Linked DNA regions of Homo sapiens. The protein of the gene in region 1 interacts with the protein of each later gene in a biochemical or structural test. Each region holds a gene or a part of one and is shown on either strand. Other genes may lie near its edges. The genes, in order: RLIM and REXO1.

Region 1 (7,476 bases):
TTGAAACCTGGTGTGTGTTTTACACTTACAGCCTATCACAAGTTGGATGCTAAATTTTCGACAGATAAAATGGAATGTAGTTCAGCAAAACAATACAGTTGTGTTTAGTGGAAAAACATTTTACACTACTTCAGTTTTTTAAGCTTAAAATAAAAAAAAAACTTAAAATTTCAGTTTCACTAGTCTTATTTCAAGTGTCTAACAGTCACATAGTGGTTAATGGCTACCATATTGGGCAGCACAGCTTTAAAGTATTTCTTTGTAAGATAGAGAAATCCCAAATAGGGAGAGTTTCAAATGTCCCCAATATATTTTTCATGCTCTACAAACCCACTATTTGCATCCCCTTTATGTTTTCCAAAAATAAAACAATAAGGTTCAATACTCTACAATGTTCAATACTCATGGGATAGATAAGTCTTTCCTATGCTCATGAATCTTCAAGATTCATTCTTGACCTTTTAGAATTTCTACCATTTCCTACATAGAAACTAGAGACAAAACATTTTACCTCCATTCAAAATTTTCCTGACACTGATTTCAGAGATTTTTGAATCCTAAACAGCTCCTGCTTGATGAGCTTGGATTCCGTTCCATGAAAGAGGGAATTCTAAATTTTATTTAATTCAAAATTTTAATGAGACACACTCATAAAGCAACATGTGAACAAATCCAAATCACTACCTCTTCAATAATAATAATATGCTGCTGTCTCCTTTCCTGCTACCCTTCCATATATATGCCAGAGACAATCAAGGAAAATATTTTCCCCATGATACTCCTGCAACACACTTATTTCAAAGCCTCCATCCTTTCTGCCTTAACTTAGCATTTCCCCTGGGCTGGAATTGGGGGTCAAGAGATTTCAGCACTGGCAAGGCACTCCCTCCCTTATAAGGGAATTCAAAGAGTAAGCTATGGCTACAATACCTGCAGAGGTCCCCTGGACTAGACATAATTACATTTGCAAAGAAAATGGAAATCAAGGCAATGCTCTCAAATGCCTTGTAAACTAATTTTACTCTCACACACCCAATGAGCCTGGTCTTATTTTAAGCAGACCTTCACTATCTAAGCGGCATAAAAGAAAGAAATGGAATAAATCTAAAAACCACAAGTTCTGCCCCAGGTAGATATAATCTGCCACTATTGTTTACTAAGTGCAAACAAACATTTTAAAGTTTAGGCATGCCAAAAATACCAGAAAACCATACTCCAAATGATCAAATACAGCTCTATCTCCATTTTGGGTGTGAAAATATTAGTGAAGAATAACATTAACAAAACAGGTCTCCAGATTCTACTTTGCAGTGAGTAACATTGTGGTACATTTCTAGCTTAAGTAGCAAGAGGAAAAAGAGAATCCTTATACACCGCTGGGATCTTTCAACATCATCGTAAAAGAGAAGGTCATAAATCCATTTCTTTAGTTATCTCAGATAAGTCAGAAATTCTGACTTCAGCATATGATTAGCATCAGCTGTTTTTCTATGAAAAGATTACCCGTGAAACATACAGTAATTTAAACAATGAAATATAACTGTTTTGAAGTCACTTAGGTCTCTCTCTGGCTATAAGCAATACTCATCACCCTGTATTTACATAGCCCTTACACCTGTATTTCATTTAATCTTCACAATAATCCCATGAATTAGGAATCACCACCTCTACAGGTGACAAACAGAAGCACAGAGAAAGAAAGTGATTTACCAAAAACCATGTGACTAGTAAGTGGGAAAGGGCCAGTAATTAAATCCAGGTCTCTGCATTCCAAATCCAGTCAACTTTTCACTAAGACAACTGCCTCCCAACATATCCCAAGACTCTATACTTTAAAACACATTCCTTCCTTCAATCCCAATAGGTATGACTAAACTATTCAATCTATGAGCTTTTTATACCATGTTCACTCCCTGTATGAAAAATTCCAAAATGACAAAACACCTTTTGTAAGCAGCACAAACCTAGATGGACTTATTTTTAAATAAGTCAACTTTTAGTAATTTTTAAAAATACAGTTGCTCCTTAGATAAACAGCATATTTTATTAACCTTATTTCTTTTAGAGTACTGTGTGCCAATATATCCAAATCCATTCCTGGAAACAAGAAACCAAATGAGAAATTTTGCCCAATCGTTTCAAAGAGCTACTCATCTGGTCAATGAATGGGACTGTATCCAGTAAGTTTAATTCTGGGGAGGAAAGGCCAGCAAGAACACCAACCCTGAGATTTATTTAAAACAGATTTTATTCACTTTGAGAATTTTAAAGTATTGTTAATAATCTCAACTTCTTCTAGTCATTATTATATATTAATATAAATTATGCAAATGACTGTTTCTGATTACTGCTAAATGTAGTATCTCATTTAATTCTTCTAATCCATGCACACCAAACTTTTAAAAAATTTAATTGTTATAATGTTAAGGCAAAAAGTTATTTAAAACATATTGTTCAGTACTAACAGGTCAGGAGACCTGGTGCTAAGTATAAACACAGGCATGTTATATTTGATGGACACACTACATTATAGTACCCAATTAAGGAGACTTAAGGCATCCAAAAATACTGTTAATAAAACAGACCTTACAAAACTAAATTCTGAAACACCAAGTGAAATGCCTGTGTAAAAACCAATTTTAAAAAGTGAGTCATCTTGGCTGGGCATGGTGCTGGCCGAGTGTGGTGGCCGACATCTGTAATCCTAGCACTTTGGGAGGTCGAGGTCGGCGGATCGCTTGAGCCCGGGAGTTCAAAACCAGCCTGGGCAACATGGTGAAACCGTTTCTACCAAAGACACAAAAACTTAGCTGGGCATGGTAACGCGCATCTGTGGTCCTAGCTACTTGGGAGCTGATGTGGCTGAGGTGGGAGGATCACTTGAGTTTGGGGGCAGAGGTTGCAGTGAACTCAGATCACGTCACAGCAGTCTAGTCTGGGTGACAGAGACTCCATATCAAAATTTAAAAAGTCATATGGAAGAAATTACCTCGTTTTTTAAAAAAAGTGGGGTGGGTGGGAGGGAGGAATTAAGGTAACGTAACATCAACTAACTACTAAATCATGTTGAATATTTCACCTTGTGCATATGTGTTCATTCAAGCTCCAAATTCTATAATAAAGTTCTAAAGCAGGACATGCCAATTTTTAAAAAATTATGGGTATGAACACAAAAATGTGTCACACTGACAAGAGAAGGGCAATCCATTTTGTTTGCAACAGAGCTTCATCAAGAATCTCATAAAGGAGGCTGAGTACAGTGGCTCATGCCTGTAATCCCAACACTTCGGGAGGCCGACGCGGGCGGATCACCTGAGGTCAGGAGTTCAAGAGCAGTCTGGCCAACATGGTGAAACCCTGTCTCTACAAAAATACAAAAATTTGCCAGGCATGATGGCAGGTGCCTGTAATCCCAGCTACTCAGGAGGCTGAGGTGGGAGAATTGCTTGAACCTGGGAGGTGGAGGTTGCAGTGAGCAGAGATCGTGCCATTGCACTCCAGCCTGGGTGACAGAGCGAGACTCCGTCTCAAAACAAACAAACAAAAAACCACACACCAAAAACACACACACACAAAAAAAACAAAAAAGAACTTCATAAAGGAGTCCTTTAAGAACTAGTGACATGTGATCTGTGTCAATGAAGAAAATGTTAAATACCATCACCAAAATGAAAAATACTTTATTCAGTTTTTTAAAAGTTAAATCACAAAGAACTGCTGAATTTAAGGCCAGAAAACAAAAAGTACCATCATATCATTACGTATGTAGGCACCAAAAGTGTTGGGGATTCTTCATATATAGAATGTTTAATTAAAATGTTATGGTATTTGTAACAGAAAAATATTTGCTAACAACCAGGTATCTTTTTTTATTCTACACATGGGTAGCAGGGTGAAACTCAGCTCTGTGAAAGGAAAAAAGAGATACTGAAATCCAGTCTTGGTTGTAACTTGGTTATGTGGATTTGGCCAATTCATTTAACCTCTTGTGCCAGAGAAGTCTCCATCAATATTAGAGTATTGGATTAAACCATCTGCAAGGTACTTTCCAGTTCTATGAATCTGTAACTGTAAATAAGATATAACCTACACCACATTACGATATTAAGAAATATTAAGTTTAGGAAACAGCACAAATAACTAGGACATAAGCTTATAAGCTCTGCTTTTCTCACTACCATTTCACTCAATGTACTTCTATCTCCACTCACGCAGTTATCTTTTTGAAAAGAAATATAAAGCATTCCTAAAAAAAAAAAAAAAAAAGAACAGGCAGGGTTAATGTCTCACTGACTTTCCTTATTGCATGATACCTCTCACCAACTAAAAAATTTGTTGATAATTTCCAAGAGTGGCCTATCAGAAAATGCTACCAAGGTATCCCCCACTGCTCATGCTACCATAACAATAAGAGATTATAAAATATCTGAATGGCAGTTAGCTTAGCCTCCACTTACATTCTTCTATCTTTACCAGTTGAAAAGGACAGCAGAGAAAAACTAAAAGGACTCAGGAATGTTCCTCATGTACGCACCGACTTGCAGCTCAAACAACTTTTACTAAAACGCTCTAAAACAGTTAAAACTGAAAGAGTGTTAAGAACTTCAGTAAATCAAAGGACTGAAGACCATGCCAAATGCGGTTGATCTACAGGATCAAGTTAGTTAAAAAAGGAAACCATTATGACATTTCATCTCAGTCAAATACTTTAATCTAGACAGTGAATTTAATCTTCAATTACCCGTTTTATGTTCTTTTATTATCAAGCTATGCCACTAAATTATAATTTGGTCTTATCCATAAACTCGTTTTGACTTGCTTCTCTCATTATTCCTAAGAAGTCAAAAAGAAAATGACTCAAAAACCCAAGGAGTGCATGTGTTTAAGTTACTAAGGTAAAAATCACTGATAACTGACAATGTTGGTGTTCATCAGTAACTAAGGCACTATTTTAAGGACCTAAGATTTTTCCATCAAAAATCAGGTTTTTAAAGATTGAAGCCAATTTTTAAAATTAAAATCACTTAGCCGGGTGCGGTGGCTCACGCCTGTAATCCCAGCACTTTGGGAGGCCGAGACGGGCAGATCACAAGGTCAAGAGATCAAGACCATCCTGGCTAACACAGTGAAACCCCGTCTCTACTAAAAATAGAAAAAAATTAGCCAGGCGTAGTGGTGGGCGCCTGTAGTCCCAGCTACTCGGGAGGCTGAAGCAGGAGAATGGCGTGAACCCGGGAGGCAGAGCTTGCAGTGAGCCGAGATCGCGCCACTGCACTCCAGCCTGGGCGACAGAGCGAGACTCCGTTTCAAAAAAAAAAAAAAAAAAAAAAAAAAAAAATTAAAATCACTTAACTAAAAAAGAAAGTATTATCTATACCAATCAGTTATTTGAGGAAGTAATTTTGTATTTAAGACCAACCATGCTGACAATTGTCCTTCCTGAACTAGTATACCTACATAAAAATAACATGAAGAGGGTGACAATATATCTTTGGTTTGTCCAGAAGAGTAAGGGTTTACACTTGTACTGAAGTAATCAGTAATATGGCTCTCCCTTTCACTCTCAAAAGTGTCCCAGTTTAGATAATTCATATGGTCTCCTTAGTTATAATCAGCACTAAAGGGATCATTGGTCAATAAAAAACAAAAGTTGTAGTTAACACTTTTCCTCCTATAGTCAAGGGGAGATCAGAAGGGACCTTTTGTCATTCCAGAAAAAAATTTTAAACATCAAACACAAATACTTCCTTTCTCCCAGGAAGTAACATGTTCATCATCATGGAAACGCCATTAGACTCTCAAATGTTATAAAAGCAAACCAACCTGTAGTTGCAAAATTATTGCAAGAAATCCACCAATCTATGTAATGCACCAAGTGCTCTCTGCCTACAGATTATTTGTCTCACAGATATGTAGGTGCTACTGTGACTAATGAAATTAAACTCTTGGATTGGTGGCCAGGCGCGGTGGCTCAGGCCTGTAATCCCTGTACTTTGGGAGGCCAAGGCGGGCGGATCACCTGAGGTCAGGGGTTCAAGACCAGCTTGGCCAACATGGTGAAACTCCATCTCTAGTAAAAATACAAAAGTTAGCCAGGCGTGGTGGCACGTGCCTGTAATCCCAGCTACTCGGGAGGCTGAGGCAGGAGAACCGCTTGAACCCAGGAGGCGGAGGTTGCAGTGAGCCAAGATCGTGCCACCGCACTCCAGCCTGGGCGACAGAGCAAAACTCGTCCTGCCCTCCTAACCAAAAAACAAACAAACAAACAAACAAACAAACAAAAAAAACCAAAAAAAAAAAACCCTTGTGTTGGAACATTAAAATATAAGAAAATCTAGAGCAAAAATACCAACTATATATGTCAGGAGAAAAACCACAAGTTCATAAATATATTCCCCCAATTGAGGTATATTTAAAAAATACCTCAATTGGCCAGTCGCGGTGGCTCACGTCTGTAATCCCAGCACTTTGGGAGGCCAAGGTGGGCAGATCACAAGGTCAGGAGTTCGAGACCAGCCTGGCCAATATGGTGAAACCCCATCTTTACTAAAAATACAAAAATTAGCCAGGCGTGGTGGAGAGCGCCTGTACTCCCAGCTACTTGGGAGGCTGAGGTAAGAGAATTGCTTGAAACCAGGAGGTGGAGGTTGCAGTGAGCCGAGAGTGCACCACTGCATTCCAGCCTGGGCGACAGAGTGAGACTCCGTCTCAAAAAAATAAAAAAATAAAAAATAAATAAATAAAAATACCTCAATTGATAAAAAGAGAAATGAATTGCTGGATTATCTGGGAAACTTTCATGTTTGAGGCTGAGAAAAAAAAATGAAAGAAAAATAGATACAGAAGTGTTATTACTTTCTTATATTGGACATCAGAACTTCAATTTATTATGTAAACTAGATACTTTCTGAAATCAATGGGCCATAGGTTTTAGAAATCTTTGTGTTAAAGAAAAACCTGTCCAGTTCTAGGCAGTGGCACAAAATTCTAGGCCCTCATTGGTTTGGGTTTGACAGAAGACTTTTTATTCTCTAATTTGTCATCCACTCTATGGTAAATGAAGAGAACAGGAGGCTGGCTGGTGATTTGCTCTATTTCTAATCCACCATGGCCATGGAAAAATTAATGTACATATAATATAATTCCATAAATGCAGATGCCTCATTTGACCTACTACTATATTAAGGCTCACTACATGTTCACTAACCTCAAAGATATCCAACCAGCCTAGTATTTCCAGATCATTTAATTATTAAGCTATTTCTTAAAATCATTTCTGATTTTAAATTAAGTTTATCAAATGATATACAAGGAGCTATCCATTTAACATCTATCAATGAGCCCATCCAATTACAGGGCCTGTGAAATAGAACAATAAATATGTGTAAACATGCATAATAGCTGAAACAGGAACGTAACAGACGAAAAGGGGGGATTGCTGGATAACCTTTAAGTATTAACAAAAGTTTCTGATGC
Region 2 (7,476 bases), on another chromosome or scaffold:
AATGAGTTATCCATTCATAAACTTCTGATTTCTTTGGGACATTGTTCCTGTAAATCTGTGACGCTTTTTGTAAAGCATCAGTGATTTCCCCATTCGTTCTTCCACCCAAGTTTTACCATAAATTTGATGCTTAACATTTGCTTCAATTTTAGCAGAACTCCTGTTGCTCTGACTGGGGCTCTGTTCTAACTGATGTCTTACTTTTTTTTAGTGCCTCAAACTCCGTCTGGTTCAGACATGTTATGACAAGTTAGTATCAGTTTATTTTGGGGCAAAAAAACTTGAAAGCCATGCAAGTTTCGTCACAACGCACGTTTTCCATGAGCTTTTTGAAGACACCTTATCTTTGACGCTGCCCGAGTTCCAGAGGGAGCTGGCCCTGCCCCTTCCTGTTAGATTGCCACGGTGCTGGGGCGAGGGACAGAGCAGGTCAGCAGCCCCAGGGTGACCTCCCCCAGAGTGCGGCAGACGGCCTGCTGCGCCGTGTGCGGCCTGGGCCTGGGCCGGTTGTCCAGCTCTGAGCTCCAGTGTCCTCTGTAGCCCGGAGACAGTAGCGCTTGTCAGGCCCCTGTGCAGACGTGGCGAGGTAGTGCAGGACAAGCAGAGAGCCTGGCTCCGGGGTCAGCAGCCAGGAGAGTCCCAGTTGCTCCAGTCCCAGAGCCTCCCCAGAGGAGGGGCTTTGAGGAAGATTAGGCGTAGTGGGATTGGATTGGAGTGCCAGTGTAATCGGGGTAGTCCCGCCCACCCGTGCCTTATCAGGGCTGAGGACATAGCCTGGGCACCGGGAGACACTGGGAGTGGGGGAGCCTGGAGCCACATGGCATTGAGGACCACTGCCCCCTGCTGCTTCCCCCCAGTGTGCCCAGCAGCTCAGAAGGCAGCCAGGGAGGTGGTGCCTCCGGCCCCCGAGCTCCAGCCACCCTCTCCCAAGCCTGCCCGGGGTCGCCTGCTCCAGGTGCCCCCGCTGTGCTGCCAGGCCTTAGCATTTGTGGTGACGCAGGTGGAGCCCCCGAGGAGGGGTCCCGCGGTGCCCCCGGCCCGGCCCCCGACGGCGCAGGAGGTGTGCTACCTGCGGGCCCAGCAGGCGCAGAGGGCATCGGCGAGCTTGCTGCAGGCCCCCGCCAGGCTGGCAGAGAAGTCGCCCTCCGTCCACATTTCCGCCCCTGGCGAGAAGAGGAGGATCGCCCACATCCCCAACCCCCGCCTGGCTGCAGGTGAGTCCTGGCCCAGGGGGCCTGTGCCGGGGGGCCGTGGGCATGTGGGCAGGAGAGGTGGCACCCTGAGGTCTCTGAGCTCACCTGAACCACATGGTGCTTGCTCATGGGATGACTTTGGGCCCCCTCCCTGGGGCCCTCAGCCTGCCTGTCTGTGAAATGGGGACTGTTGAGGGGTGCAGGAGGCCTGGCCCAGCACCTTCCTTCCCTGACCCAGCTCCGGGGTTACTAGGAGTCCAACAGCCTGCTGGGGACTGGGCTGAACCAGGGCCTGAGCCTGTGGTTCCAGGGAATGGGGAGCCATGTCGGGGTACCTGGCATTGGGTGGGGAGCAGGCTTCTGCAGGTGTGGCTTTCTCCTGGCGTGTGAGTGGGGGGCGTGGCCTCTGATGGAAATGAGTGCTGTCTTCCCAGGAGTGGGGCTGTATTTCCTTTACTCCGAGGGGCACTTCCCCCCCAGCAGGGTCTTGTAGAAAGTCGGGCCAGGCCTCAGTGGTGGGTGGACAGGACCCTTCACGGGGGGTTGTCCTGTCTCCTGCGTCTTCACATCAGTGGTGTCTGTAGAGCGAGAAAGTATCCCTGGAGGCAGGTCACAGATGAGGGTCCCCCAGAAAGCTCCTAAAAAATGCAGGTTCTGGTCTGGAGGCTGGGAAAGGTCTGTGTGTCTGGCAAGCTCCCTGGGAGGGCATGGCTGCTGTCCGAGGACCACCCTGAGCAGCCTGCTGGTTTGGAGCCCCTGCCTCCCTGGCGCTGGCTGGAGAGCCTTAGGGCCAGCCCCGGCGATTCCCCTGCAGATCCCATGGATCCCACGGCCCTCCTTAGGGAGAGCTCTCCAGGCTACTCTGACCTCCCCTCCCCAGAGCCCCCTCACGGCTGAGACCTTAGCCCCAGGGAGGGGAAATCATTGAGTTGGGCCTATCCCAGGACCCCACACGCTTCCCGTCTGTGTCTCCGCGCTCGGGTTGTCCTGTTGCTGATCTGTGGTGGGTGCTGAGCTGTCGCAGTGCCCTTGGGGCCCGCCGCCTGAAGGGAGTCTGGCGTCCCAAGTGCTGGCAGTGCCGCAGGGCGGGCTCATCTGGCTTGGAGGACTCCTGTGGCTGCCTGGGCTCGCCCCCAGCGTGCAGCCGAGGGAGTCTGGAGGTTCTCTGTCCGTTCCTGAAGAGCAAACCCTCCACTGCAAGAGGCGCGTGCCAGCCTGGCGGGCAGCCTGCTTCCTTGCTGGGCGGCCCGCGGTAGCATGAGCAGACTCATCCTGCCTCCCTTGCACCTTCCAGGGCCAGATGGCATTTCGAGGGATGTTGCTCTGAGACTAGGGCCAGATGTCCCTGCTCACAGCTCCCCTTCCTGGGTCGGTGCCGAGCCCCCAGTCCAGAAGCCCCCCTGCCACACAGACGTACATGCCCAGGTTGCAGCTGCCCGCGTGGCCAGCCCTCCGAAGCAGCCCCTGCAGGCCTGGCCTCCTCCCTCTGGTTTGTGACTTCATCAAAGGGCAAGGCAGAACACAGAGGCCGCAGGGCAGGGCAAAGCCAATGAGCAGGTGGGGGCACCCGAGACCCTTCGGTCCTCTGTCCGGGAGCCAGGGCCTTTCCCTCAGACATCGACGCCTTGGGCTTGGGGTCAGAACACGTGGCAGAGGCCTGGACCACCCCACCGGTGACGTGTCCTCAGCGGCCTCCGCAGCCTGACCTGTGTCCTCTGCCTCGATGGACTTGCCTGAAGGCAGCTAGAGCCTGATGCCATTGCGCAGCCCCAGCCCCTCACCCTGGCCCGGCCCCCTGCACGCGGAGATGCACGTGCTGCTGGCGCTGAGCGGCCGCGGCTGCCTGGTGCTCCGCCACGTGGTGATGGGCAGCCACTCGCCCTGTGCCCACACCCCCTGTGCCCCGCCAGCCCCCACAGGTGCCAAGAGGACCCTTGCGGCCAGCGGCAGCCAGTCCTCCAACGGCCCTGAGCCAGGTGGCCAGCAGCTGAAAACACGCACATTGTCGGGGATGGCGTCCAAGACTACCACCACCATCATCCCTAAGCGAATCGCCCACAGTCCATCCTTACAGGTAGCCCCTCCCATCTCGGCCAGGACCACCACCCCCAAGACCACGCCCTGAGGCCCGGCCACATGGGACCTGCGGAGGGCCAGCCTCGCCCCTGCCCTGCGGGCCTTCGTGCTCCACACCGCAGTACAGCCTTCACCTTCCCTCCCCATGCCTTGGTGTTTTTTTTTTTTTTTTGAGATGGAGTCTCGCTCTGTCGCCCAGGCTGGAGTGCAGTGGCACGATCTTGGCTCACTGCAAGCTCTGCTTCCTGGGTTCACGCCATTCTCTGGCCTCAGCCTCCTGAGTAGCTGGGACTACAGGCGCCCGCCACCACGCCTGGCTGTTTTTGTATTTTTAGTAGAAACGGGGTTTCACCATGTTAGCCAGGATGGTCTCGATCTTCTGACCTCGTGATCCACCCGCCTCGGCCTCCCAAAGTGCTGGGATTACAGGCGTGAGCCACCATGCCCGACCGCCCTGGCGGTGTTTTTTTGTTTTGTCTTGTTTTGTTTTTTTGGTTGGTTGGTGTTTTTTTTTTTTGTTTAGAGACAGGGTCTCTGTTGCCCAGGCTAGAGTGCAGGGGCGCAATCATGGCTCACTGCAACCTCGACCTCCTGGGCTCAAGTGATCCTTCCACCTCAGCCTCCTGAGTAGCTGGGACCACAAGCCGGTGTCATCACACCCCAGCTAATAATTTTGTTTTTTATTTTGTAGAGACAGGGTTTTGCCACGTTGTCCAGGCTGATCTTGAACTCTTGTCCTCAAGTGATCCTCCTGCCTCAGCCTCCCAAAGTGCTGGGATTATAGGCGTGAGCCACCACGCTTGGCCTTGTTTTGTTTTTAATTAATAGACTTTATGTTTTTTGAGCAACTTTAGGTTTCTAGGAAAATTGAGCAGAAAGTACAGCAAGTTCCCTTGTGCCCCCATGGCCTCAGTTTCCCATGACCTTAGTTCCGCTGCCCTCAGTTTCCCCTGCTGCTCCTGTCTTGCCTTGGCGTGTCTGTCCCTACTGCAGCCAGGCTGATCTGTCCCAGCGCACCTCACTCTTGCCTCCAGCCATGGGCACGGCCTCATCGCGTCTGCGTTCCCCGCTGGAGGCCTTGTGGAGGCCCTCACCCATGGCAGCTTTTGCCTTCCCTCTAGAGTTTAAAGAAACCCATTATCCCCAAAGAGTTTGGGGGCAAAGTCCCCACCGTCATCCGCCAGCGCTATCTCAACCTGTTCATCGAGGAGTGTCTCAAGTTCTGTACCTCCAACCAGGAGGCCATAGAGAAGGTGAGGTCCTGGAGTTCCTATCTGGCCGGTCGGGTGGGGACTAGGGGTCCAGGGTGGTCCCCAGACATCCCCCGGCCTCTCAGCCGCAGCTGTGACCCGGAGCTGCCTGGGAGAGATGCAAGTCCCCGACCCCATGGCGACCCCACCGCTGGGGCTCCCCGGCACCAGGCAGGCATGGCCTCAGCTGGGCACCGCCTGTCCCCCAGGCACTGAACGAGGAGAAGGTGGCCTATGACCGCAGCCCCAGCAAGAACATCTACCTGAATGTGGCCGTGAACACCCTCAAGAAGCTCAGGGGCCTGGCCCCCAGCGCTGTGCCCGGCCTCAGCAGTGAGTCCTGGCGGGTGGGCGGGGGAGGCTCAGGGTTGCTCTTGGGGTGGCAGCTGGGCTGGGACCCTCGCTGGGACCTTCACAGCCCTGAGCTCAGCCACAGTCTCAGACAAAAGGAAAGCGCGGTGCTGTGGGGGGGCTGCCTGCTGCCTGGTTCCCAGGCTTCTGTGTAGGACGGACCTGGCCCTGGTGTCCTCGCTGTCAGCCGCCTTCCTCCGCTGAGTGGGGTCTCCAAGCCGAGCCGAGGGGCCGCCTGCTAATGGAGCTGCGGCAGCTTCTTCAAAGCAGGAGGCCCAGGGCTGGGCGAGCTCCATGCATTAAGCTCTGGGGAGGAAGAAAGCGGAGACCTGGGCGTTTCATTGCAGCCTCTCCAGGCTGCATTAAGCTATCACCGGCCCCTGCCCCCGTCCCCGCCTGCATTAGCACTCGGAGGGGCCCTGGGTTGGCGTCGCAGGCTGGGTGGCCCATGAAGGCTCAAAGCCCTCGAAAGCCATTAGATCCCCCGTGCTGTTCTCCCCGCCCTTCCCCCTTCGCTTGAGGGGAGGGGACGAAGACTTTGGGTGTGGGGCCTCCGTGCAGCTCTGGGGCCTGCAGAGCTGGCGGCTGCCCTGCGTCCCTGGCTCACCGCATGTCTGCCTCTCCTGTTCGGGTCAGGCTGGAACCCGGGGTCAGTGGGGTGCTGTCCCAGAAAGGGGGAGTTGAGGCAGAGGTCTGAGGAGGGCAGGGTGGGTGGGAGAGCAGGCGGGGCAGGGGTCTGAGCCAGCTACTTCACACCCTCCTCCCCTCCCTCCCTTCCTTCCAGAAACCAGTGGCCGCAGGGTTGTGTCCCACGAGGTGGTGTTGGGGGGCAGGTTGGCCGCCAAGACCAGCTTCTCGCTCAGCCGTCCAAGCAGCCCCCGGGTGGAGGACCTGAAAGGTAAGGCCCTGCCCCTGCTCTGCCACACGGTGCTTCGTGGGCCTCTGCCGGCCCAGCCCCTGCTGTGCCACACGGTGCTTCGTGGGCCCCTGCCGGCCCAGCCGCCTTTCCCGGTGGTGTCTACCGCCCCGTGGGCCATCCCAGGCAGGGGCTGACCACTGTGCCTGTCCACAGGGGCTGCCCTGTACAGCCGCCTCAGGGAGTACCTGCTCACCCAGGACCAGCTCAAGGAGAACGGCTACCCCTTCCCGCACCCAGAGCGGCCCGGGGGCGCAATCATCTTCACAGCTGAGGAGAAGAGGCCCAAGGACTGTGAGTCGCTGGCCTGCGACGGCCTAGGTGGGCAGGTGCGGGATGTGGGCAAGGCCGGGCATGCGGGCCCCAGCGTGAGCCTCAGCTTCCACCTGGGTCCCCACCCACAGCTTCCTGCAGGACCTGCTGCCGCTGTGGCACCGAGTACCTCGTGTCCTCTTCAGGCCGCTGCATCCGGGACGAGGAGTGTTATTACCACTGGGGACGGCTGCGCCGGAACCGGGGTAAGGCCTTACCCGGGTCCTTCCCCTTCCCACCCATGGCCCCCGGAACCTGGGCCCTCCCTTGAGGCCCCCAGAACTGGGGTAAGGCTTTACCCAGGCCCTCCATCCCACTCAGGGTCCCTGGGCTGCACCGTCTTTGGCAGAGCCGGGGCTAGCCCTTGGCCTCATTTTCTCTCCACCTGTTCTTTATGCAAAAGTAAGACAAGAGCTTTCCCATGACAAGGTTCAAATGCCACCACCTGAAAGGCCCTGTGTCCCTGCCTTCCTGTGCCCTTGGTCCATGGAAATGTGGAGGTTGCTGGCCCCAGGAGCGGAGGGGCTTGTCCCACCCTTGGCCTGGTGGTTCTATTCAATCCCCCAGGCAACCACGCAGCCACGCTCAGGGCACATGGCCAGCCTTGCACAGCCCTGTGGCGGCCCCTAAAGCCATCGCCTCAGGGATACCTGGAGGGTGCTGCCCGGGGCAGCGCTGCCAAGAGGCCTCTGCAGAGGGCACTGGTCTCCCTGGATCCAGGCCTGGGCGTCCTGGCTGCCACACGACTGCCGGGGCCTGGTCTGCTTCCAGCTCCACCAAGAGGCTGAGGCCTCCTGTCCTCAGTCCTCACTCCCTAGTAGGGCTCGGTAGATGCAGGTGGTCAGTGCCCCGGGGGCTGTGGAGTGGGCCTGGCCGGGCCCTGACTGTGTGTCTGTGTCCCCTGCAGTGGCCGGAGGCTGGGAGACCCAGTACATGTGCTGCTCGGCTGCCGCCGGCTCTGTCGGCTGCCAAGTCGCAAAGGTGAGCCCTGGCGTCCCAGTCCCCTCTGCCTGTTCTCAACAGACTTCTGCCTCCCCATCGTTGGTGTGGGGTCTCGGGACACAGCACAGTCCTGGGCTCAGGGTCTGGGCCCCCGGGCAGCCTTTCTTGTGTTACCCAGAGAACGTAGCACCCGTAGGCCCCAGGCCCTGTCCCTGGCCACTTCCCATCCTGGGAAGCCGTCCTCCCTGTGTCTTCTTGGCAAGCCCCCTTCCCCACCTGCTCACCAGGGTCCCAACCAGTGAATGGGCGTGATGGATGGATAGGATGGTCCCGAAGGGCTCAGAGATGTGCTGCTGCTGCCACCCCCGCCCCCACTGCACCCCGAAGCTGCCCTCACCTGCCTTCTCCACCCCCAGCAACACGTGCAGGATGGCCG

What was found.
Region 2: of the proteins of RLIM (region 1) and REXO1, one has a biochemical effect on the other in vitro, tested with the Homo sapiens proteins (one study listed by BioGRID).

Annotation. Positions count from the first base shown.
Region 1 is NC_000023.11:74,604,180-74,611,655, forward strand, and holds part of RLIM (E3 ubiquitin-protein ligase RLIM), read right to left. Parts: intron 1-7,476. UniProt on the Homo sapiens protein: E3 ubiquitin-protein ligase.
Region 2 is NC_000019.10:1,817,310-1,824,785, reverse strand, and holds part of REXO1 (RNA exonuclease 1 homolog), read left to right. Parts: intron 1-211; coding exon of another isoform or gene 212-249; exon of another isoform or gene 250-677; intron 678-1,000; coding exon 1,001-1,214; intron 1,215-1,528; exon of another isoform or gene 1,529-1,771; intron 1,772-2,093; exon of another isoform or gene 2,094-2,697; intron 2,698-3,103; coding exon 3,104-3,267; intron 3,268-4,390; coding exon 4,391-4,522; intron 4,523-4,605; coding exon of another isoform or gene 4,606-4,617; exon of another isoform or gene 4,618-4,728; coding exon 4,729-4,852; intron 4,853-5,654; coding exon 5,655-5,768; intron 5,769-5,942; coding exon 5,943-6,080; coding exon of another isoform or gene 6,081-6,107; intron 6,108-6,190; coding exon 6,191-6,304; intron 6,305-7,005; coding exon 7,006-7,079; intron 7,080-7,327; coding exon of another isoform or gene 7,328-7,342; exon of another isoform or gene 7,343-7,450; intron 7,451-7,456; coding exon 7,457-7,476. UniProt on the Homo sapiens protein: Seems to have no detectable effect on transcription elongation in vitro.